Linked DNA regions of Homo sapiens: regions 2, 3, 4, 5 and 6 are each reported to be linked to region 1. The links are microRNA targets in miRTarBase. Many come from high-throughput screens and were not tested one by one. Region 1 holds a microRNA gene; each other region holds the end of a gene's coding sequence. Distances are from middle to middle.

Region 1 (4,086 bases):
GAAGCCCCGTCTCCATCCATAGGACATCAGTGTGAACCCAGGGAGAGGCGCTGGTATAAGAGAGATGAGAACACAGGTGTGAACCACCTGCTTGTGCAGGGGACTGAGCCTTCACTTTGAGCCAAATAAGTTTTCTTTCCCAAGTTCGATCCTGAACAAGAGGGCTTTCTGGACTTCTTTTTGTTTTCAGGTTTGTGCCCCTTCAGGTTTGGGGCTGTCTGGAGTCCCAGCCAGGGGACAGTGAGGAAATCCAGCAGTCTCACACTGACTCTGTTGTATTTCATCTGCTGGGGCCATCCCAAACTGCTGCGTACCATTTCCTTTCCTGGTGCTCAAATAGCTGCTCCATGCACTTGTCATGGTTTTATAGCTCAATCTAGATGGGAAGACAGGATAGTGTATGTTACAATATTTAAATAGAACCTGAATCCCTTAATAGTTATTTTAATATGGAACATTAAAAGAGTTGCATCATAGGCAATGGGGAAAGATGAAGAAAGATTAAACGCATTTGGAGGAAAAACTAAAAATGTCTTTATTGAATGTCTGTGTGTCTTCAGTGTCGAAGGGTTGAGAGAGGTCAGCTTTAGGTTGTCCTGAGGATGTGCTCAGATGGGGGAAAGTAAGAAAGCCGGAAACGTGCATCTCTGTGACCTGACACATAAATCACAGTAAAATGGAAGTAAATCTTTCAATAAACCTTTCAAGATAACATCACTCTGGTGCACATAGAAAGGCCTGTTAGCAAACTTTCCCTTTTCCCTGCTGGCTCATATCCCCATGGATCACCTGTATGCAGAACGGACTCTGTGGTCTCCATTTATCAGGCTGAGAACCAGAGGCTGGGAAGGACAAGTCACCTGCTCATGAGTGGGAGGGGCAGGATTGGGAGCAGCGGACTCAGGCTCAGGACTGTGGCCCTGGTTGGTGCTCCTTGTTCCCTTCACAGGGTCCCACCCACATGTGCCCGTGTGGATGTGGGTGCACTGCCTGGGGTGGCTGATGTGCTCCAGGGATTTGATGGTGCAGATGCTTCAGGACAAAGCATGGGAGTGGGGATGGGACGAGGCTGCCGCTGGGCAGACCAGGGACCAACGCCACCCAGCAGAGGCTTCCAGTGGGGTTGGGCAGCCCCATTTCCTGAGAATAGAGAGAACCTGGCAATGAGTGCCAGAAAGAGGTTACTTCGAGGTGTGCCCAGGCCTGGAGGGTCACAGAGACACAGGCACCACACAGCAGAGACACTGAGGGCCAAGAGCTCACTCAGGTGAGGGGCTTCAGCAGATTTTTCTCTCCTGAGCAAATCACGTGCAAAGAAATCAACTTCCTGTCATCAGAATAGACAATCAGGGACTTTAGTCTCCTTGGCTGAGCCCCGCTGTCAAGGGAAGCAGAAGTCTCTAAGCCCAGGCCCAAGTGAGGGTGGGGTGAGAAGAGGAGCTCAGGATGCAGATTTGCATGGAGGTCCCGCCCTTCTCTGAGGCAGAGGGGATAAGACAGGGCTGGGGGCAGGCCCAGTGCTGGGGTCTCAGGAGGCAGCGCTCTCAGGACGTCACCACCATGGCCTGGGCTCTGCTCCTCCTCACCCTCCTCACTCAGGGCACAGGTGATGCCTCCAGGGAAGGGGCCACAGGGACCTCTGGGCTGATCCTTGGTCTCCTGCTCCTCAGGCTCACCTGGGCCCAGCACTGACTCACTAGACTGTGTTTCTCCCTTTCCAGGGTCCTGGGCCCAGTCTGCCCTGACTCAGCCTCCCTCCGCGTCCGGGTCTCCTGGACAGTCAGTCACCATCTCCTGCACTGGAACCAGCAGTGACGTTGGTGGTTATAACTATGTCTCCTGGTACCAACAGCACCCAGGCAAAGCCCCCAAACTCATGATTTATGAGGTCAGTAAGCGGCCCTCAGGGGTCCCTGATCGCTTCTCTGGCTCCAAGTCTGGCAACACGGCCTCCCTGACCGTCTCTGGGCTCCAGGCTGAGGATGAGGCTGATTATTACTGCAGCTCATATGCAGGCAGCAACAATTTCCACAGTGTTTTAAGTCAATGAGGAAGTAAGATCAAAACCTGCCCTGGGCTCTCAGGCCCCCTTCTTGCTCTGCAGATGCTTCCTCACGCTGTATAAGGGTTTCCTGCAGGATGGCCTTGACAATTCTCCTCTCTCAGCTCCTCTCCTTTCCCACCATGAGGTCTAAAAGGAAACCTGCTCGTGATTTCTCGTTCAGGACTGTGGCAACTTCCTTTTGCTTGTGTGCTCTGGTCCCTTAACGTGCAACTATTCCTAGCTCTTCAATGCAGGGACGTAGGGACAAGGAGTTTACTGCTTGGTGCAGTCCCTCCTGTTTTCAGGAACATCCTCATTCTAAATGCATCCCCCATCTGTCACACTATGCAGATCAATCTGGACAGAAGCCATCAGGGGGATGGCTTCCAGTTTCCAGGAATTGCATCTTGTTCCACTCTGTGTCCACCACGCTCTAATGAAGATGGCCCTCCTAGCTTAAAGTGACCACTTTAAGAAGACTTGAAGATGTTTTTGAGGGATTAAGAACAAAGAGGATGCTGCTGTTTTTCTTTTTATTGCTCCTGCTCTTTGCCGAAATTCCTCAGGTTGCTGAGCTGGGGAGATTTTGAGTGACAGGCTCAGTGCTCTCGCAGAATTCTCCTCCCCTCACATCGCTGAGGCCCTGTCCTGGAAACTCCTCACAAGTGGACGGTCTTCCCATAGGATGGGGGATTCCAAAATGGCTCCACAGGAAAGAGTTAACCTGAGTCCACCTCCCTTCCTCATGGACATCGAGCATTTCTAATTTTCATGGCTGTCAATACTTTTGTACCTGGAATCCCTAATAATCTAATGGTGAGAATTGATTTAGAACACATTCGGACATTAGCTGGGTCCAATATTTAAATTTTCTGAGCCAGTTGTTAAATACAGCTATTATCATATATAGTTTAGGCTCCTTAAACTTCGATTATACAGATTATATTTAAAACAAAGTAACTAGTTTACTATATATATTTACAAAGTAACTACTATATAACATCATGTTGTGTACCTGAAATATAAACACTAAAATTTATTTCAAAAACCAAAGTGTATTGTCTATTGATGCATAAAAAAACACTCACAAAACTTAGCACACTAAGAGAACACATGTCTGTGACCTTGTGACTTGGATGCACCTAGAATTGGGAGTAGCTTAGTTTGGTCATTCTCGCTCCTGGTTAATCACGAGGTTGCAGCCAAGCTGTCAGGCCAGGCTGCATTCAGGCTACATCTGCCAAAGAGGTTAGGAACTGTGGAAGCCTCCCTCTGGCTGTGGAAGCCTCCCTCTGGCTGTGGAAGCCTCCCTCTGGCTGGGAGACTTCCGCAGTTCCTAACCTCTTTGGCAGATGTAGATCATCTCAAGGATAAAGGAGAGAGTGGAGTGAAGGCCCCTGTCCTTGTCCTCCATGTAAAAGACCATCCCATGCATGCACTATTTTTTATTCTTTGCTGAGACATCCTAGGCATAGAGCACTGCCCCATTCATTCAAAGGTTGTAGAGTATTCTATGGTAGAATTTTAGCCAACTCACTTTTAATGGTTATTATCACTATTTTGATCTTATAAATAACACTGCAGCGAACATCCTTATGTAGACTCCTTTGATTTTATATGTAGACATGACCATAGAATAAATTTCTAGAAGTCAAATTGCTGAGTCAAAAGGATGTGTGCTTGTAATTTTCACTCACTGTCCTCAGATTCTCCTCTAGAGGGGTTATCTACAAATTCGCAATGTCAGCCATAAATATTCGAACAGAGTACACTGGGGAAAGTTTAAATGTTTTTCAACCTAGCAGATTTAAAAATGTTATCTTTTTTTAGTTTTGATTTCTCCTGTTCTGCTTGAAGTTGAGCATTTTCTCTAATACTTCAGTGCTATTTATTTTTATAATTTGGTAAACATTTTCTTAAATGTCCAGATAAGAAGGATTTTGGTCTGTGGTTCCCAAGAGTCAACTTTGAGGATATTCTGTAGGTATTTTTAGCACCATTTATAGTGTAACCATTTAAACCTATAAAAACCACTCTCAGCT
Region 2 (4,086 bases), 16 Mb from region 1:
GCTGAGCTAAAGAAGGGCTGAAGCTCTGGCCCATGGTGGGAGGGACACATTCCCTGAAGCAGCTGAGCCCCCTGGCACGGCTTCACCAAGGGGACCCTGGCCCTGGGGCTGGCCCACCCCCTGCCTCTGTTCCTTCACTTCAAGCCCTGTGGGCTGGGAAAGGGGTCGGAACACGTCTGGAGCAATGGTGCCCAGATGGCACTCTACACAGGTGAGTGGGAACTCAGCCCCTGGACGTAACCCCCTTTGGTTTGAAATCTGGGCTCCATCACTTGCTAGCTGATTGACACCAGGCAGATGACATCACCTCTCTGTGCCCCAGTTTCCTCACCTGTCTAACGGAGCCAAGAACGTCCTAACTTAGAACTGTGTTGTGAGATCAACAGGACGGTGCCTGTGCCACACTCAGTGCAGTGCCAGATGGCAGGACAAACACGGGCTCCATCGTGGTTATCAGCCAGGAGCAGCTCAGGATGTGACTGGGCCATGTCTGACTCCTCTTTCCCTGTCTGCTTGGATGTGCTCAGGGGCAGCAGAAGATAGGAAAAGCGGGACCCAAACAGTGGTGCTGGGGAAATTTGTTCCTGTTCCCTTTGGAAGGCTGAGTGGGTGATGCAGCACAGGAACAAGGCTTGGACGTCAGAGGTCTCATCTTCACTGTGACAAAGCATAAAGGACTTGGGGTTGAGCGTGTGTGTGGGCTCAAGTGACCATGCAAGTGCTGTCACCTCCTTCCTAAGACCCCATCCTTCTCCCAAGTCCTCCACAAGAGCTACCTTCTTCAAAACAATAACAGAAACACATCAAGCTTGGCGTCACTGAAATTGAAGTTCTGAATTCTGCCGTCACCCCAGCAACAGTGCCAGTATGATGAGACACTTGACCCAGCACTTGGGTTGATGTCTTTGGCTGTTACCGTGGCAACCTAGGTCTCAGCAGGTCTGGCTGAAGCCCGCCATTGCCTTTTCTTCCAGTGGGATTGTACTGGAGGGGCTGGGCAATCTATTTATGTTCTCGAAATGGAAAGCAGGATCTGGGCGCGGGAGGCAATGCAACTTGGAGTAGCTTCCATGGCACTGAGCCCCCCGGCCTGCAGCTCTTGCATCATGTCTCAGGCTAAGTGGCCTCAGGGAGTGGAGATAGGGAACAAAAAGGCAGGCAAAAGGTACAGTGCCCACTTGAGCCAGGGAGCATGCAGCTGCTCAGACACCTGGTAGGTGACTAGCAGGGGAGGGACACCTCAGCTCTCCATTCTGCCGAAGCGCCCAGGGATCATAACCTCCTCCCCGCACTTCCTGGGGTGGGGATGCCAAGATGTTTGGGTGTTGCATAAAGGAAGATGTTCAGGTGTCATGTTGGAAAGCATCTGACCTCGCGGATGTCTACCTGCTTAGGTGTAGACTGAACTCAAAGGTCTTCAGGGGCAGGCAACATGGAGGGGGAAGAACACTGAAGAGGGAGTCAGATGCCCTGAGCTCTAGTCCTGGCTCTGCCCCATGCTCTGTGATCCTGTGCAGGTCACGTGTCCTCCCTGAACTCTTCCCCATTTCTCACAAGCAAGATGCAGCTGTGGTGCCAGATGGGGTGGCTTTTCTCATCTTTAAGATTATTATTATTTTTTTGAGATGGAGTCTTGCTCTGTTGCCCAGGCTGGAGTGCAATGGCGTGATCTCGGCTCACTGCAACCTCCACCTCCTCAGTTCAAGAGATTCTTCTGCCTCGGCCTCCCGAGTAGCTGGGACTACAGGCATGCACCACCTAACCAGCTAAGTTTTGTATTTTTAGTGAAGATGGGGTTTCACCACGTTGGCCAGGCTGACTTCGAACTCCTGACCTCAAGTGATCTGCCTGTCTCAGCCTCCCAAAGTGCTGGGATTACAGGCGTGAGCCACCGTGCCCGGCCTCTCAGCTCTTAAGATTCTGACACTCTCTTGGGGAAGCTGGTGATGACTCAAGGGGACCAGGAAGCCATCAGCCCTTTGAGACACTCTCAGACAGGCAAGGGTGCCAGGCTGGGTTGATCCAAAGGGAGCTGGTTTTTTACAATCCATGCATGAGGTTAGTCTGCCTTGAACCTTGCCCTGGACTCTGAGTCTCTGCTGACCCTAACCCATGACTGGCTGCATCCCATCCACTGCCGAGTCCTGGGATCTACCCCTGCGAAGCCCAGGGTCACCAGAGCTTTCCCCACATATCCACCTGGAATCACAGAGAAGCTCACACCCAATCTGGAGAGCAAATGACCAAAGCGAGGGCCTCAGCTCACGAATGAGGAAGGCCAGGCCCAGAGAGGGCAGGGACTTACAGAAGGCCACACAGCACATTAGCAGGGCTGGCTAGGAACCAAGGTCTTCTCCCTCTCACCCAGTGCTCTGCTCACTGCTTCATGCTTCTCCCCACCCTCTGAGCTTCTTCCTTGCTGCCCCAGGACCATGCACAGGGTAGGTAATGTGGCTCTGCCAGAGGTGGGGTCTCCTGGGCCATGAGGCCTCTACCTTAGGGCTGCTCCCAGCCCAGGCTGAAGCGGTCCAAGTCCTGTCCTTGGCATGGAGGGAGAGCGATGACTATACCAGTGGCCATCACTATGGGTGAGCACAAGGGGTGACTGCAGCCCTTTGGCCTCCTGGGGTCTTTGTCCCCTTCCCTCCAGGCTGGAGCTGGGAAAGGAATGTCCTGGAGACTGAGGTGGGGCTGGGCCAGGCATGGAACCAACATTCAAACCGCTACACACAAAGAGAGGAGGAAAGAGGAGGAAGAGGGAGGCATGGGTGGGGGGGGGGGGAGGCTCCATCGAGATCCCACTGCCCTTGACTGGCAGCTGGTGGAAAGAGGGAGGAGGGTAAGTCTAACCTCTGATGTCCTCGTCATCCCCTTCTACAGCCTGTTGTGGCCCTGAAGGGGAAGCCACTGGGCCTGTTGCATGGGGGACAAGGGGGCGGGCGGCCACCCCCACCACTGAGATAGTGGGGTCCCCCTCATACACAATCCTACCCTACTGGGGGTGCTGTCAAAATTAGTGAAATCAGATACAGTTGATGGGCAGGGAGGGTGGGGTAAGAGACAACTCCAGTGCAGTGCCAGGTGGGCAGGCTCCCACTGTTCACTTGAGACGCTCCTCCCCACTCAGGTGGGGACAGGGGACACACTCGCAGGGCAGGGCATTCTGGAGGTGTGGGTACAGGTGAGGGGAAATGGGAGGCACAGCCAGGAGTGGGGCAGGAGGGAAGGCCAGTGCGTGGGCAGGCTGAGGAGGGAATATGACCCCCCTCAAGTCCCCAAAGTGGCAGGCAAGGGAGGGGCCCTGGATGAGGTGGCCCCTCATGCCTTGGCCCTCCCCTTGCAGACATCGAAGGCAGCCTTTGTTGCACCCCCAAAGGCCTCCACCAACTTGTCTTCCCAGGGAAGGACGTTGCCCAGCAGTGGCGCAGTGCAGTTGGCAATGCCCAGGACCTGGGCTGGTGTCAGGGCGTGGTCCCACAGGTTAAACTGGGCAATGTCACCGACAAAGGCCTGGGTGGCATCAAACCGGCCACCCAGGGTATCCTGGGCCAAGACAGCAGCAGAGAAAGGAGAGGCATGGAGTGAGGGAGCAGAAAAGACAGGCAGGCTGGCTCAGTCAGGCTCTTGTCCCCGAGGCAGCCCCACCTTCAACCCCACTGAAGCCCCACCGCCAACGCTCTAGCCCCACCTTCAAGATTCTAGTTCCTTGGGCAGGTCTCTGATCTCTCTGGCCCTCAGTCTGCCCATCTGCACAATTAGGAGGTCCAGCCCCAATATCAGCCTGAGCCTTACCTGCTCCTGGCCCAAGATAAGGATCCCATGAGGCTTGATGGGGTGCCAGGCAGCCAGGTTCTCACCGGAGCCCTGCAGCTCCCCGTCCTGGTAGGCAGACCATAGGCCATCCCTTGTGGTCCAGGCGATGCAGATGTGGTGCCAGCCATTGTCCTTCAGGCTCAGGGGCAGCTGGGCCACCTGGACACAGGTCCCCCAACCCCAGGTCAGAGGTGCCCCAAGGCCCAAGGCCCATGGCTGAGGCAGTGGGGTGGGGCTGGGGAGACCCATGTCCATCCTTCCAGGGCCCGACCC
Region 3 (4,086 bases), not on the chromosome of region 1:
CACACCTGTCAGAACGGCTGAAGTAAAAACATGTGGACACCACTAAGTGCTGTGGAGGATTCAGGGAAACTGATCATCCTAGGTTGCCGGTGAGGACATGAGTTTGACAGTTTGTGGCCAGGTGCGGTGGCTCACGCCTGTAATCCCAGAACTTTGGGAGGCTGAGGCGGGCAGATCACGAAGTCAGGAGATCGAGACCATCCTGGCTAACATGGTGAAACCCCGTCTCTACTAAAAATACAAAAAACTAGCCGGGCGTGGTGGCGGGCGCCTGTAGTCCCAGCTATGGGGAGGCTGAGGCAGGAGAATGGCATGAACCCGGGAGGCAGAGCTTGCAGTGAGCCGAGACTGCGCCACTGCACTCCAGCCTGGGCAAAAGAGTGAGACTCCGTCTCAAAAAAAAAAAAAAAAAGTTTGATTGTTTAAAAAACGAAACATGCAACAACCCTATGACCAAGCATTTACACTCCTCGAAAACTAATCCTGACACAGAAACCTGTACATGAATAGTCGTAGCAGCTTTATTTGGAATAGCCCCAAACTGGAAACATCCCAGGTGTCCTTCAGGGGGCCAATGCATACACCACGGAATACCACTCAGCAATAAAAAGGAGCAAACTGTTGACACATGCAATGCCTGGATGATCTCCCGAGAATGACGCCGAGTGAAAAAAGACAATCCCGAATGCTTACACACTATGCTCCCATTTATACAACATTCTTGAAATGACAAAATAAGAAGAGATGAACGATTAGTGGTTACCAGGAGTTAGGGAAGGTGGGGAGGGAGATCCTTGTGGGGATGGGACTTCTTTATCCTGATTGCAGTGGTAGTTACACAGATGTACATGTGACAAATGATTTGGACTGTCCACCCACATCGCACCAGTGTCAGAGTCTTTGTTGGAATACTGCATTACAACCATATAAGATGTAACCATGGAGGGAAACTAGATGAAGGGTGCGTGGGGCCCTTACCTTTACAACTTCCTATCATCTGAAATTATTTCAAAATATAAAGTTAGGAAAAAAGAAAGCAACAGCTCTAAGTGCAGTATGGCATCCTGGATTGGCTGCTGCAGCAGAAAAGGGACATTGGGAAAAATGGTAAAATCCAAATAAACTCTAGCTATTAGTATGATTGCACCTTTAGTTTTGATAAATGTACCAAGGTTATATGTAAGCTGTTAACATTAGGGGAACCTGGGTGAAAGGTGTATGAAACTTCTGTGAATCTGGGCACGGTGGCTCACGCCTATAATCTCAACACTTTGGGAGGCCGAGGCAGGAGGATCGCTTGAGCCTAGGAGTTCGAGACTACCCCAGGCAACATAATGAGACCCTATCTCTACAAAAAAAAATTAAAAGTATTAGCTGGGTGTGGTGGTGCCTACCTGTAGTCCCTACTACTCAGGAGGCTGAGGTGGCAGGATGGCCTGAACCAGGGAGGTCGAGGCTGCAGCAAGCCGTGATCACACCACTGCACTCCAGTCTGGGCGACAGAGCAAGATCTTGTCTCAATAATAATAATAATAATAATAATAATAATAAATAAATAAAAAATTGAAAACTCTGATGCCGACTCTGATTAAATCACAAGCTCTGGTGGCAGGTCCACGTATTTTTAATTTGCCAGGTGATTCTGGTGTGCAGCCAAGGTTAAGAATCCCTGATCTTAGCTCACACCTATAATCCCAGCACTTTGGGAGGCCAAGGCAGGCAGATCACCTGAGGTCAGGAGTTCAAGATCAGCCTGGCCAACATGGTGAAACCCCATCTCTACTAAAAATACAAAAATTAGCCGGGTGTGGTGGTGGGCACCTGTAATCCCAGCTACTCAGGGGGCTGAGACAGGAGAATGGCTTGAACCTGGGAGGTGGAGGTTGCAGTGAGCCAAGATCTCACCACTGCACTCCAGCCTGGGTGACAGAGTGAGACTCCATCTCAAATAAACAAACAAAAAACCACTGTTCTGGAGAGAGGATTTTAAAGCATCTGTTTCCAACCCGGGCTTGCTCTCAGAGTTTATTCCTTGAGGACAATTTCTAAGCAAGGATATCACTGTTGTTTTGACCTTCAGTCCCATTTATAAGGGTCCAAATTCCTTTGAGAAAAGTTCCAGAAATCCTCCTCCCTCCCTACCCAATCTATGATCCTATGTCCTTGTGATGCCCGTTTCCACACAGCTGAAGAACTACGGAAGGAAAATGTAGTAAACTAGAAGAAAAAGACAAATGCCTTCCTGTTCCCACTTCTCTAAAACCCCATAGCTAGGAACAGAAAAAAAGGAAAAGACTTGAAATGTTCTAGAGATATAACAAAAACTTTTTTTTTTTTAAAGAGGATCCACCTGGTTCATGAACCCTCCCTCACTGCTCTCTGCACATCACGGCCACACAGCACCTGCAGGGAGGCTGTGGGGAGGTGTGGAGCAGGTGCAACAGGCAGCTACTCTCCTGGGGGCCACACGGCGGAGAGAGGATTCGATGCAGCATGACGATCCCTTCCTCCCAGGCATGACCTCTTCTCAGAACACGGGAACTGACAACACTGCGAGTGGCAACTCAGCAGGTGGGCAGAGAAGCAGAAAGGGGCCCTCAGCACCACTAGGCCAGCTCTCAGAATCAGAAGAGCAGCCTCCAGGGAGGGAGCAGGGCTACAGGGACAGCCTACGGGCAGTGGAGCTTCTGGTTTGGCACATGGGAAAGGCTGGGGCGCATGCGCTGAAACATGACACCATCAGGGAAGCCAGAAAGGACAACATGGACAAGGCCATCGATCTGAACCCCCAGCCAAAATGGGTGCTCTCGGCTTGCTCAAAAAGTGCTGCCAGCAGCGATAGGTTGGCAAATTAAAAGCAAACAAATAGAGGTCACGGCCACACAAAGGCAGTAACTGCACTCACAAGGTGGCTCAGCCCAAAGAGGTCTGAATCTGAATATGCCGCACTGTCCCTGCCCCGGGGGAGAAGGGGAAGGCTGGGCCCTGGGAACTAGAGATGATGGCATTCCTTTCATTCCTTCCTGAGGCGGGCCTGGAGGGCTGTGCCCTGGTGACTCCTGTCTCCTAAAGGAGGGCAGGGCCGGCTGAAGGATCCAGGCATTGATGTCTAGTTCTGAGGACACCCAGGACCCGCAACTACAAGGGCCATCTAAAACGTGGCCTGGAGGGGATGGGGGCAGGCGGGCACAAAACTTCTGCTCAGCTCACTCCAGCTCCCCACGTGCTCATCTGTTCCCCAGATCTGGGGCTGCCTAGTGAGCCGTTAAACGCCTGGGTTCCGCCCAGGGCTGCCTTCCACCGGGACGCCGGGCCTGCTGTGGCTGGACCCTACAGGAGACAAGGGAAGGAGAATTAACATCAAAGCTGGTAAAGTATCCTGTCAAAACCAAGTGCCAAATCCTCTGTGGGACAGGAAGGGGCAGCTAAGACAGGTGCTTCGGGATGCCTTGGGAAGTATCAGAGCAGAAACAGGAGCGACTGGTTAGCAGATGGTCAGCCAACAGATGCCTTCCCTGGGAGACGGGGAAGCTGGGGCTGTGGATTTCTGGCCCCGAGGGTCCCAGGTCATTATGCTGAACAAGAGGCACCTTCCCGGGACGATACAGCACCCTGTGCTGGAAGGAAGCACCATTTTCCACAGTGGAGGAGTCTCATGACCCCTCCTGTCTTCCAGAAGGATGGAAGGGAGCGCCCACCCCACACCCCTGGAGAAAAATGCCCCCCAGCCTGGGGAGCCATGGGCTCTGCTCCTCCCTCAGCTGAAGGGCCAGGAAAGGGAAGTGAAGGGGCAGGGAGAGGGAAGATATTTACCTTACGTGTGCTCTGAAAACAAAAAACGCGCACTAGTCCACAGTCATTTATCAACTGCAGTTTCCAACTGTGCCAAAGAGGGAAAGGTCTACTGGGAAGGCTAAAGAGAGCAGAGAGAGAAAGAAGAGGAGAAGCTATTGAGCAGAAATGGTTGTGCCTCTTGGCTCCGGGCAGCACCATGGAGAGGGCCGGTGCCCCGGGCAGGGGAAGCTGAGGGAGAGCTGGCAGCTGCAGTGCTGGTGCTGCGCTGCCCCACAGCCTGCGGCTCAGGAT
Region 4 (4,086 bases), 8.5 Mb from region 1:
AGGCTGAGGCAGGAGAATCGCTTGAACCCGGGAGGTGGAGGTGAGCCGAGATAGCACCACTGCAGCCTAGGTGACAGAGTGAGACTCTGTCTAAAAAAAAAACACCAAAAAACAAAAAACCAGAAACTATCACTGGGAGCTTAGGAGTAAAGTCTGAGGACAAGGCAGACCTCAGTTTGAATCCTGACTCTTCCACTTACTATGTGACCCAGGGGAGTTCCTCCATCCCTCTGAGCCTGTTTCCTGCAAGAGGGGGATGATAATAGAATAATGAAACCAACCTTATAGGTTGTGCAGGGGATTAGCTCATGATGATGGTTTCTTTTGGTCTCCACAAAAGACCTGATCAGGAAACAGGCTCAGAGATTTAGGGATTTCCCCAAGGTTGGCAGAGAGCAGATGATGGAGCCGAATAGCCAAAGCTCAGGTGGTTCTTCCTTTTTTTTTTTTTTTTTTTTTTTAGCGTTAGGGCCTCACTCTGTTACCCAGGCTTGAATGCAGTGGCGTGATCATAGCTCACTGTGACCTTGAACACCTGGGCTCAAGCGATCCTCTTGCCTTAGCCTCCTGAGTAGCTAGGACTACAAGCGGGCACCACCATGTGCAGCTGTTCTTCATTTTTTGTAGAGATGGAGTCTTCCTATGTGGCCCAGGCTGGTCTCAAACCCCTGGCCTCAAGTGATCCTCCTGCCTTAGCCTCCCAAAGCTTAGGCTGCCAAGGGAGCAGTGCTTTGGAAGATGCAACAGCCTGCTTGCTCTGTTGTTCCCCTCCTGCCATGTGACAGATACTCCTTTCTAATACCTGTGGTCCCTACCTGTCCATGGACATGCTCACAGGTCTCCAGGGAGCAGAACTAAAATGCGTTCAGGAGCTCGGGCTGGCCCAGTCAAGTCCTTGGTTCAAGGCCAGGTTCTCTTAACACTCAGTGGGTGTGACCAGATTCTGTGGTGGTCACAAAGCTACGTGTCCACAGGGCCTCCACATTCTAGGGTCACCCTTTCCTTTGATACTCACATCTAATGGCCTAAGCCTCTATTCCACACAGTCTGCAAAGCCCAGCAGCTTACCAAGGATTTTGTGTAAATGGCTTAGAATTGTTTTTTAAAAAATTCAGCTGAGAGTCTTTACCTTTACACCAGAACAATGTAATTCTAGGCAGGGTGCAGTGGCTCACGCCTGTAATCCCAGCACTTTGGGAGGCCCAGGCAGGCAGATCACCTGAGGTCAGGAGTTCGAGACCAGCCTGGCCAATGTGGTGAAACCCCGTCTCTACTAAAAATACAAAAATTAGCCAGGCATTGTGGTGCATGCCTTTAATCCCAGTTACTCCAGTTACTCAGGAGGCTGAGGCAGGAGAATTGCTTGGACCTGGGAGGCGGAGGTTGCAGTGAGCCGAGATCACACCACTGCACTCCAGCCTGGGCAACAAGAGCAAAACTCCGTCTCAAAAAAACAAAAAATAATGTAATTCTGATACCAATGTGGGTCTAAAAATTTTTGTGCTGTTTGTTCCCCTAGGTCTGTTTTTCTCTCCTTTACCATTGTTTTGTTTTCTTCTTGCTTGGAGGTTAAATGCTGTCTCTATCCTTTTAGGGGTTTCCCTCTTCCCTGAGATTTCTCAAGATGCCCAGGGTGCCTTAAGTCTGCCTGTCCCTTCTTGTTCCTCATTCTTATTCCTATTAATTCTCCATCGTGCTTACTTCTTGCCTCCTGTTTGTTGTTCTTTCCCTCTTTTCTTCATACATTCACCATTAACGGTGCACCAACCTTTTACTTAACATCAGGTAGATAACATGGTGGGGGAGACAAGTTGCTGAGCTTCTTAGAGCCCCTTGGCCATGAGGAGTCCCTGCCCACATCCCTCCTCAGGTGCTAGCTGGGTAGGCTGTGTCAGATCCCCTCTATAAGCCTTCCCTCCCAGAGCCCCAACCCCACTTCACACCTCCCTGGTCCACCCTACTCACCCTCCTGCTGTCACTGTCCCCTCACCTTGCCCAGTTCTTCTCCTTGTATTTCTCATTATCTGAACTCATATTTAAGTTGTCTGTCTATCCCATTAAGCCTCACAGTGGTGTCTTGTTCACCACCATATCTCAAGAGCATGAAACCATGCCTGGCACACAAGCAGTGAAGACAAGCAGTGGATATTTGTTGAACACATGGGTGAATTCTGGCATTCTAAGTCTTCAGTGGGACCATCTACCTGTCAATCCCAGTGGAACTGGTGCAATGAAGTGGAAAAGGGGTCTCCTGGGATCCCACTCCCACCCCAGGTGCTGGGGTATGGACTGCCCACCTCTGGGTCCCAAAGACCCCCACAGCTGAAAAACTGGACTCAAGGGAGCAGATAGAGTAATGTACTAACATTTTTAATACAGTCTGATCAGATCAATTCACATCACAAGGTCAACCTGGGCTTGCTCACATGTGACACAACTGAGGTACACAATGTCCCTACCTGCCGGCTGTCCCACCTTCCTGGTTCCCAACAGCATTGAAACCCCCTACTTCCCTGACCAGACTGGCATTTTTTAAAATTTTGCATAAAACTATTTCTTCCATAGACTTCAAACAATCAACTAGCCAAGTTAATTATGGTACATCTAAACAAAGTTTAATACTAACCCTAATGTGTGACTGCGGTTTACAAAGAGCTCTGTATCACCTGGGATAGCTTTCAGTAGCAATTCACTACAACTGGTCCTAAAAAATAATAACAATAATAATAATAATTAGAGAATTAAAACCCAACAGCATGTTGAATGGTTAAAATCACGTAAGAACTGAAATTTGGGGTGGGGGTGTCCTCAACAGCTGAGCTTGTCCTAGCAGTGAAAATGCTCGCCTCCAAGCAGGGCTCAGAAAGGTCTGGAGCCCTCCAGGCAGAGGGCTGAGCTCAGGGGGCTCTTGGAGGACACTCACCCCATGGTCCATGGGATGCTTCTGGCTTCCTTAAAAACAGTTGGGCATCCGCATTGTATAAGTAGGTGGAGACCCTAGTGTGGTTCTTTTGAAGGATATGGGAAGGGAGGATGACGAACTAGAGAAGTGGGAGGGGACCAAAATCACTGAGGTCCCAGAATATCATAGATTTGGGTATAGGATTGGGGTCACTAAGAATTGAGCACCAGGAATTCCAGCTTCTTCCCATTAAAGAAACTGGGACTGGTTTTGCCTTGGAGGCCTATGTAGTGTTTTCTGCCCCTGTCCCATACCAAGTCTCATTGATATTTCTGCAGAATATCAGATGAAAATCTATTTCTAAAGACCATTGGGAGAATGGGTGGTGGAGAAGGAGTTGGAGTGGGGTTGGGGGGCAGTTAAAAATGAATAAAAATCTCTCAGCTACAGAACCCAAACATCACTTCCCTCCGCATTCACAGCATTTCCCAGCAGTCCCCAGATGGTTGTTTCCGTGGGGACACAGCAGCTGCCTCATTTCCCTTCAGGCCCCATGGGCTGCTGGTCAACCTCAGGATCTACTAAAGATGACGCAAATGCCGACTGAACAATCTGAAACCCAAAGGACTCGAGGAGAGACATGTTCTGCTGAGGAGAGAAAGGTGAGCCAAGGGCAGGGCCCAGGTCCCCCAGGGGGCCCCCGAGAGCCCGGACATGCACCTTCTGGATGTGTTTGTTCAAGTAGGACTTAGAGCGGAAGAAGCTCCCACATTCAGGGCATGGGTACTTCTTCTCCCCATCAGACTCCATTTTGTTTTTGGGGACTGCCATGTCGCAGGAGAAAGAGCCATTGGCACTCTGCTTCTCTGGCGTCTTCAGGTCGCTGGCATCTGAGAGGTCACCATAGGAGTCAGAGCTCTCAATCGGATCCTGATGTGAGCATTTCTGGCCTTCTACGAAAAAACAAAATATAGGAGAGCGATGAGGCCAGGCTCTGGAGATGCCCCCTCCTGGAGGGGTCATGAGGGGCCAGCTCACAGACCTGTGGAGGGCAGCCATTGGCCAGCCACTGCCCTGGCAGAACCCACGGAGGGTCAGCTGGTCAGTCTGGGAGCCTGGAGTGCCTACAGGGGTGAAACGGCAGGGCCCTAGGGCTGCCAGCCTCCCTTGCTGTGGACTCTTCA
Region 5 (4,086 bases), not on the chromosome of region 1:
TGCTAAAACGTCCCTTTTTTTTTTTTTTTTTTTTTTTGAGACGGAGTCTCGCTCTGTCGCCCAGGCTGGAGTGCAGTGGCGCAATCTCGGCTCACTGCAAGCTCTGCCTCCCGGGTTCACACCATTCTCCTGCCTCAGCCTCCCAAGTAGCTGGGACTACAGGCGCCCACCACCACGTCAGGCTAATTTTTTGTATTTTTAGTAGAGACAGAGTTTCACCATGTTAGCCAGGATGGTTTCGATCTCCTGACCTCGTAAATGTCCCTATTCTTGATCTAAATCTTTAGGGAAATGAGTCATGAAAGTTGAGCCCCTACCATGTAATATTTTCTCCTCTTTGCTTGTGTTGAACATCCCCACAGGCTCCCTGGAGCAGCTCCTGCTCCTGGCACCCCAGGCTTCTGCCCTGGAGCCACACTGACCCATGGAGCCCCTCATCCTGCTGCCTCTGGTTCATCTCTGCTGGGATGCCAAAGTGCCCCTCGGCTCTCTGTCTTGTCATTCCTCACCCGTGTCCTCTTCTGGACCATCGCGGCAAGGACCAGTGAGTCTTTCCTGAGGTGGGTGCAGTGACCAGGATGGCCAAAGAAGCCGCAGGGAGGTGCGCCCCCAGGGCATGGCTGGTGGAATCCTGTTGTGTTAGCGCCCTTGGCAGCCTGAGTGTGAGGAGAGCATGGCAGCAGCCAGAGACCCGCGTTCTGGGTCTGACTCTTCCCCTCTGTGGGCCTCAGTTTTTCCATCTGTAAAGTGGAGGGAGGTGGCTTGGAACCCCTGGATGGTTGCTAGGCAACCTTCCTGCACCAACATCCTGGGGACCTTTCTGATTGATGCTGAGGGAAGGGAACTGTCTTGAACTCCCTTTGGCAGAAGAAACTGGCCCAGCAGCTTAGGCAATGGAGCAAGATGACTCCAGGGCCCTTCCTCAGACCTGACTGAGAAAACAGAGCCCACTAGGCACCAGCTTATGGAGGAGACTCACCCCTGGGAGAAAGCAGGGCTTCAAATCAGGCTGCCCACGAGCTGCCTGCGGTGATGAGGGACATGGAGACCCCTCTGGGCCTCTGGAGGGCCCTCATGGAGACCCCTCCAGAGGCCCAGAGCCCAGGTGACAGGCAGCAGCCTCCTGGAGTATGTTTCTGCCCATCTCTGGAAAAACCCAGGTAGGCACTGGTGGGAAGAGAGAACATGCATCCTCCTGCCCTCCGTAGCTGCAGGCCCTGGCAACAAGCCTGGAGGCTCAGCCATCCTCCTTGCTCAGGGGGACTCTCCTGCCCTAGTTCTCAGCCCTGCCTCTCCACCAGCTCCTAATTCTGGGCTGAGCTAGGAGAGCAGGTAAAGGCCTAGGGATCCCTGCAAAGATGCACAGCATGGGGTCTCGAAGACACTCCAGAGAATAGGACCCAGTCCTCACAAGCGCAGAGCAGACCCCCTCCCGCCCCCACCCCCACCCTTCCACTCTTCACTCTATCCCCAAAGCATTAAAGGACAAGACAGGTACGATACTGATAGAGAACATTCTCTACAAAAGTGGCAATGAGCCTGCAGGAGGGATTCGGGGTACAGTGGTGGGAGCACAGAGCCTGCTCCACCCCAGCACCAGAAGAACCAGGAGGGGCTGCGGCAGTAAACGGACGAGGAACAGGAGAGAAGGGGCAGCACCTGGGGCTCTGGGAGAAACAAGTCGGCACTTGGGGGTGGCCCCAGGCTCAGGCCCAGAGAACAGGGAGAAGAGCTGTGGTGGGCTCCAGATGGCGGTGGCAGGCAGCCAAGCCCTCAGTGTCCTGCAGTAGGACAGGGACCATCTCCTCCATGCCCCCTACTCTGGGCACATGTGTGGGAATGGGAACCCCCAGACAGACCAGAAAGAGGCCTTTGAGGGCTCTCTTTCCCCTGCCCCAGCCATGGGGGCCCCAGGAGATGCTGGGGGCTGAGGCCATGCTCCCAGCAGGAGCTGCTTCCCAAGCTGAGGTCAGGGATGGGGGGCCATGGCTGAGAAAGGAGGAGAGCACCTCTGCATGGGGTGCAAAGGGGCGCACACGTGTCAGCGGGCTCATCAGGGACTCTCCCACATCTGTGACCTCAGTCTGGCTGGAGAGCTTTGGGGGCATACGTCAGAGGACACATGCTGTGACCACCCTCTGAGCTGGCCTTTCCCCTGGTCTCACCACCATCAGAGGGCTGGGACACAGGTGAGCTCTCTTACCCCCGATCCACGCAGAATCACGCAACAGCCCAGTCCCTACCAGACCTGGAGGGAAACCTACCAAACACCACCCAACGTGAGTGTGCACACACGCACACATGCACACACACACACATGCATGCACACACACACATGCACACACATGCATGCACACACACAAACACGCACGCGTTCACGTGCACACACACGCACACATGTATGCAAGAACACACACACCCAAGCACACACCCGTGCTCACACATACCACATACTTACACACACATGCATGCACACACGCATACATGCACACAAACATGCACACGCACACAGCCCTGGTGACCTGGGGACAATCTGCAGTTTAGAGGATCCACTTTCTCCAGTGTCCACATCGCAGGACTTACCCACCCCAGGCCTGACACCCAGCCACACCCTGTTCTGCCTGTCCCAGGCCTGGGAGACTGAGGAGGTTGGCGGACACCTTTCTCTAGCCCAGCGCATGCCTGCCAGGCCTGGGGGCTATAATACTGCAGCCCATTGGTCTAGCACCTTGCATCTAGCGCCCTGGCCCTCTGGGGTCCCTGGGGGGCCAGGCTGCACAACGAAAAAGGGGGAGGTTGGAGGAAGACAGGCCAGGCTCCACCCCTGGATGAGCTGGGAAGGGCGTCAGTACCCCCACCCCACCCCAACCCGGCTTTCCAGCTCCGGGCCTTGACCACTAGGTGAAGGAGGGGGAGCTGGCTATGCTTGGGATGGGGTACAGACTGAAAGTTGGGGCATTTGGCTGAAGAGTCTGGCTGAGGAACTTCCCCTCTGGGGTGGACGGGAGGAGGGGAGGCAGCCCAAACTCTTCCCTTCACAACAATGCAGGAAGTGAGCAAGTCTCTGGCCTGAGCACAAGAGAACAAGACCATCAGGGGAGGGGTGGGAGAGGCCACGGCGCCCGGGACAGGTGCACCCTCCCGCATCCACCTCCCACACTCTCATCCAGTTCCGATGCCCCTGCCCTCCCTCTGGGGCAGGCCTCCCCCAAGTCTACATGTCCTTTACGGCTGCTCAGAATGGGTGGCTCAGGGCCTTCAAGACCCCTCAGAACTGGAGTTCCGGAACATTCTCTTGCCCCTCTGGTGCCTCCAGGCCACACCCTCAGCTTCAAGGTGCAGACAGACTTTCAAAGGAGTCGCCCCAACTGGTCCTTGCTCCTGGGGAAGGGGGCTGCAGGGCTGGCAACTGTGAGGACCTCGAGACCCCACCATAGGTTGTGGCAACTTGCAATTCATTTTGGTCTGGGGAGAGGAGCCCCCGGTTATCTGTGGAGGAAGAGACAGAAAGAAACAGATCTCACATGAGGCCCTCCAGAGGCATCATTTTCACCCAGGGCAGCCATCTGGACAACTTAGCCTCCCCATCTCTCGGCAGGCCAATTGTCAGGGATGGGGGACGCCAGCCTATGGGTGACCTCCCCATCCCCAAAACTCTGAACCAGCCTGCCTCCCCACACCCATCCCTGCCCCAGCCATTCAGGATAACGGCCATAGATACCTAAGAGGAAATGAGGACAAAGTTTGTTGGGCCTGTGGGATGCCATTGGGGAGGGGCCAGGGCAGGGGCTGGCCACAGCATGACCATTGTGGTGGCAGCCTTGGGCAACTATGACGGCCTTTGGAACATGAACTCTGCCTCCAGGGCTGCTGCTGACCCTCTTGGGAGCATTTGCCCACGTTCCTGATTGCAAAGTTCAGGAACAGTAGGTAAAACATCTCCCTAAGGCCAGGCGCGGTGGCTCACGCCTGTAATCCCAGCACTTTGGGAGGCCAGAGTGGGCAGATCACTTGAGGTCAGGAGTTCGAGACCAGCCTGGCCAACATGGCAAAACCCCATCTCTACTAAAAATACAGAAATTAGCT
Region 6 (4,086 bases), not on the chromosome of region 1:
AGTAGGACTATGGGGCTGAGACTACATTTGAAGCTGATAACCATGGATTCATAGTGATATAAATCTGCTCCACAGTTGTTTCCTGGGGTGGCATTTAGCTGTCCAAATGCAGGTACAGACAAGTATCACTTTATTTAAGGGTTCAAAAAGAGATGAAAGGCAAGGAAATTCAGCCTATTGCACGAAAACCACTAGTTTAAGCTATACAGGAATCTAAAGAAGGAAGGGACTAATGGAAAGCAGAAGCATTGGCTGCAGTGAAATCAGAGAATGATAGAGGGAATAGTTCAATAAACCAAGTGGAAGGAATATGGTCAATAAATAAGATGCAAGTATTTTGAAGATGGAGCAATTTGAGGTGATGATAATGGCCAAGATATGACAAACGGAGTGAGTGGCCAAGACAGAGTGGAAATCATCAGAGATTGGGCCAAATAACTAGGAGACAAAACACCAAATGAATTGTCTATGTAAATGTTAAAATATCAAGGAGTGGACAGGAAGACCAAGGGCTAGCTATTTAAAGTAGCAGGAGAGTAGTAGTAAATGAGAGTGGTAGACAAGTAATCAGAGGGTTGTATGGATGAACAGCCTCAAAAGAATGAGGCTTTGCAAAGGAGTGGGCAGTTCTGAAGCCACAATGGCAGGAACAACAAAGTATCTCCAACGTTTACATTTATGATAACATGATAAAGCTTGTCAACATTTATTCTTTAGTGTTGTGCTTGGAACATCACATTGCTCCGATTATGCCAATGGCTATCACTTTATGGTAAAACCTGAGGAAGACCAGATTATGGAAGGTAAAGTGGTAGGAATAAGGTTTTTCTCCTGAACACTGAACATATTTATAAACAGGAAAGAACCAGGACAAGAGATTGAAATTTTAAGAAAGGGATTAAGAGATGGGTCAGACTGAGGGACATTTGTTTTTTCATGCCTAGAGGCAGGTTAAGTACAGATAGAAGCTCTCAAAGTTCAAAGAGCAAAGGCTTTAGAATCAGACAGATCTATGCTCCTAGCTCTTCTTTAGCAATTACTATTGTGTGACATGGAAGGACGGGAAGCACAGATAATTCACAATGGAAGTTTATTGCAAGGATACACACAAATGTTGATGTGGAAGGGTCCTCCCACCAGCAGCACAGTATCACAGGTCCCATCCTCCTATCTTCTGGAAGTTAAGAAGTTCAAACCTGTTTTACTTGCATTTATATTTCCCAAGGACAGAGTGCCACCCTGTGGGTAAGGTCCTAGTCAGCAACTTTTACCTTCCTAACAAACTTTTCTGTTCAAGAGATAGCAGCTAAAGGGGGCAAAAAACATGATTGGAACCACTTTTCTCAATAAGAAACTTTGTATAGGCCGGCCGTGGTGGCTCACACCTGTAATCCCAGCACTTTTGGAGGCCGAGGCGGGCGGATCACAAGGTCAGGAGTTCAAGACCAGCCTGACCAATACAGTGAAACCCCGTCTCTACTTAAAATACAAAAACAAAATTAGCTGGGCGTGGTGGCGCATGCCTGTAATCCCAGCTACTCGAGAGGCTGAGGCAGGAGAACTGCTTGAACCCGGGTGGCGGAGGTTGCAGTGAGCCTAGATCGCTCCACTGCACTCCAGCCTGGGTGACAGAGCGAGACTCTGTCTCAAAAAAAAAAAAAAGAAGCTGTGTATAAATGTTTGCACGAAATCTGCAGAATGTGCCTTCTGGCACATTCTGGATTCTTGCTTCCTCATCTGTTAAGTGAGGTTAATACCTCTTACTTATAGTTGTTGTAAAGATTAATATAAAGCATGACATCTACCAAAATCAGAACCTACACAAAGTGTGTGCTCAATAAATACTATCTTAAGAGGCAGCCTGCTGTGTAAAATGAACATGGACTTTAAAGTCAGATCTGCACTTTAATACCGGGTCTGCTACTTGAGAATTTCAATTTTCTGCTCTGTAGATAGGATAGAACATCTGCTTTGTAGGTAGTTGTAAGAAGTTTTAAAATTATTACTGTGGAAACCAATGTCTAAGAGCTTCAATTTCTCTAAAAAAGGAAACAGGGTCACCTGATGAGGGTGGGGTATGGGATTAAGGACAGCAGTAGAGGTGTAAAATAACTGCCATGGTAATTAGAGAAGGAAATGGACCAGGAACCCATAAAGGTGTGTGTTGGTGTGACTGCGTGTTGGTGTGAGGACTTGGCTGAGGTTGGAGGCCTTGAATATTTAGTGGCATTCATTACACAACTGTTTTTCTCTAGCAGTTTGAATGAAGGAATGGAAAAGACAGAATAAGTGGAATGATACAAAAAGATGGCCAATGGTGGCAAGAAAATGGGGTGATGGAATGATATGCTATCCAGGCTGCTGAATACAGAAGTAAATTACACAAAGTTGGGGGGCGGGGGAGGCAATAATGAGAAAAGAATGGAGAGGCTGGAATTAGAAATCACAGAATGTACTCAATGGGACCAATGTGGGGCAGATGATAGAAAGCTGGATTTAGGAGTTTCTAGACGAGCAGTGAAACATTAACGTAGCATTAAAGAAGTCCCGAAGATTTAGTTTTATCCCTTTTTATCATAACCATTGCCATCTACTTCTCCCTTCAGTTTCTCTTCCTCGGATTTGGCTGCATTGCAGAATATGGTCCCCAGCTCTCTCCCTTCCTGATTGCCCGTGAAGACAACCACACAGACCTTTGTTCAAAGGTTTTACTGCTCATCCTGAGAAGACTGTACATACTAAGAAAGTAACAACCTGGGGAAATGGCTGAAGTTCCAAAAGACTCCAGACTTCTTACAGGTTTCATCTCTCTTCTGTGGCCACTAACTTCCCAAGGAGGCAGTGCCCAAAAGCCCTGTGGTTTTTTGATCCGTTGTACTTCGATAGCTCCTCCTTTCCCTAGATCCAGCAGAACTCTAGACATGTAAGACATAGTTCACAAAACAACAGTTATGAACCAACAAATACTTGGCTCACGGTTATGAGCCACTGAAGTCAGTCAGACTTAAGGACAACTAGACAGAGCTCCCATTTTCTGTCATCTGGGCAGGAACCAATCTCCTGTTGTATAAAATGACCTTCTGGTACTTTCTGGAATCTTGCTTCCTCATCTGTTAAGTGAGGCTAATACCGCTTACTCATAGTTTTGTTGTGAAGATGAACTAAGAGCATGACATATTACCCGTTTTAAAATTGTACACACAGACCCTGCTTTAACCAGATGCCTGCAAATGCTCAGGTTTTCCTTCTACATATAGAAAACAATTTCTCAGCTGCCAGGGCTGAAGCCAGCAGATATGCACTAAACGACAGAACAACGGATTGTGCCAATAAAGTAGGCAAAGCTTCCTTGCCCAGAATATAAATCAAACTGAGTAAAAACTGGGTATATTGGCTCCAGGAAAAGGAGCAAGGACACCCAGCTTTCAGGCAACCTCGAATTCTCTCTGTTTAGGATTCACCAACCCCAAGGTCCACCGGGTCCTTCAATCTGAGGGTCCATCCAAGGCCTTCCTTCCTGGGGTTGGGTATGGCTAGCTGCCTGATGGAGAGACCCCAGGCTGTTCAGCAGCAACGCCTGGCACAGCCGAGGCAGCCTCGTAGTCTGCGATGCGGCGCTGTACCAGGGCAGGCATGAGCTGCACGTAAGCGGCCATGAGGCGGTGGTTGGAATGGATCAGCTTCCCAGCACAGCTGTGCAGACAGGCCTCCTAGAAGGAAGATAGGGTTTAAGTGGAGGATAAAGGTGCCCTGTCGGGTCCGCCTCCTTTCTTCCCCATGCCCAGCCTAGGGGTGAGGGTCGTGGGAAGGCCAGGGCCAGAGGTACGGGAAGTGGGGTGAGGAGGGAAGCAGTCTACCGCTAAACTCTTCTTGCAGCGTAACCTCCCTACACAGTTCCCCACCTCCTCAGCGTCCAGAGCTCGGTGGTGCAAGCTGGGCACACAGCGCTGGAAGCAGAGTTCTGTCATCCGATTGTAGACCAACAGGAAGTCACGCAGCTGAGAGAAAAGGGGGACCACAAACTCAGCGATAAGGGCCCCACACTTCTAGTCAAGGTCGCGCCGCCCAAAGTTTCCCAGGCCCGCG

The links. Region 1 holds the annotated microRNA hsa-miR-650 (AGGAGGCAGCGCUCUCAGGAC, at 1,531-1,551, shown strand). A microRNA usually pairs through its seed, bases 2 to 8, with sites in the 3' UTR of a target mRNA and lowers its output. Matches are read on the target gene's strand: a 7mer-m8 pairs with bases 2 to 8, a 7mer-A1 pairs with bases 2 to 7 and ends in A, and an 8mer does both.
Region 2: the mRNA of NPTXR is a reported target of hsa-miR-650. Seed matches in the 3' UTR shown: 7mer-m8 at 3,195-3,201, 7mer-m8 at 2,759-2,765 and 7mer-m8 at 1,043-1,049.
Region 3: the mRNA of CNNM3 is a reported target of hsa-miR-650. The part of its 3' UTR that is shown has no 7-base or 8-base seed match.
Region 4: the mRNA of PATZ1 is a reported target of hsa-miR-650. Seed matches in the 3' UTR shown: 7mer-A1 at 3,179-3,185.
Region 5: miRTarBase lists USH1G as a target of hsa-miR-650. Seed matches in the 3' UTR shown: 7mer-m8 at 3,013-3,019.
Region 6: the mRNA of TIMM10B is a reported target of hsa-miR-650. Seed matches in the 3' UTR shown: 7mer-m8 at 2,835-2,841, 7mer-m8 at 2,401-2,407, 7mer-A1 at 2,205-2,211 and 7mer-A1 at 1,404-1,410.

What each region holds. Positions count from the first base shown.
Region 1 is chr22:22,821,261-22,825,346 of GRCh38, forward strand. MIR650 (microRNA 650) reads left to right here and starts at 1,516; the gene lies at 1,516-1,611. LOC105372948 (a long non-coding RNA gene) reads right to left here. Exons shown (of 4, transcript XR_938047.2): 4 at 1-376. It also overlaps IGL and IGLV2-8.
Region 2 is chr22:38,819,291-38,823,376 of GRCh38, forward strand. It overlaps NPTXR (neuronal pentraxin receptor), which reads right to left. Exons shown (of 5, transcript NM_014293.4): 4 at 3,793-3,972; 5 at 1-3,543. The coding sequence ends at 3,319. Among named protein-coding and RNA genes, the nearest start is that of NPTXR, 23 kb to the right of the region's middle.
Region 3 is chr2:96,831,796-96,835,881 of GRCh38, reverse strand. It overlaps CNNM3 (cyclin and CBS domain divalent metal cation transport mediator 3), which reads right to left. Exons shown (of 8, transcript NM_017623.5): 8 at 500-3,330. The coding sequence ends at 3,266. It overlaps LOC124907859 (a long non-coding RNA gene), which reads left to right and starts at 1,493. Exons shown (of 2, transcript XR_007087143.1): 1 at 1,493-2,571; 2 at 3,243-4,086. RefSeq lists enhancers at 2,105-2,724, 2,387-3,586.
Region 4 is chr22:31,323,455-31,327,540 of GRCh38, forward strand. PATZ1 (POZ/BTB and AT hook containing zinc finger 1) reads right to left here. Exons shown (of 5, transcript NM_014323.3): 5 at 2,350-3,855. The coding sequence ends at 3,437. Among named protein-coding and RNA genes, the nearest start is that of PIK3IP1-DT, 9.9 kb to the right of the region's middle.
Region 5 is chr17:74,914,588-74,918,673 of GRCh38, forward strand. USH1G (USH1 protein network component sans) reads right to left here. Exons shown (of 3, transcript NM_173477.5): 3 at 1,496-3,489. The coding sequence ends at 3,486. Among named protein-coding and RNA genes, the nearest start is that of USH1G, 6.6 kb to the right of the region's middle.
Region 6 is chr11:6,481,669-6,485,754 of GRCh38, reverse strand. It overlaps TIMM10B (translocase of inner mitochondrial membrane 10B), which reads right to left. Exons shown (of 3, transcript NM_012192.4): 2 at 3,903-3,998; 3 at 1,074-3,710. The coding sequence ends at 3,534. Among named protein-coding and RNA genes, the nearest start is that of TIMM10B, 2.2 kb to the right of the region's middle. RefSeq lists an enhancer at 3,632-4,086.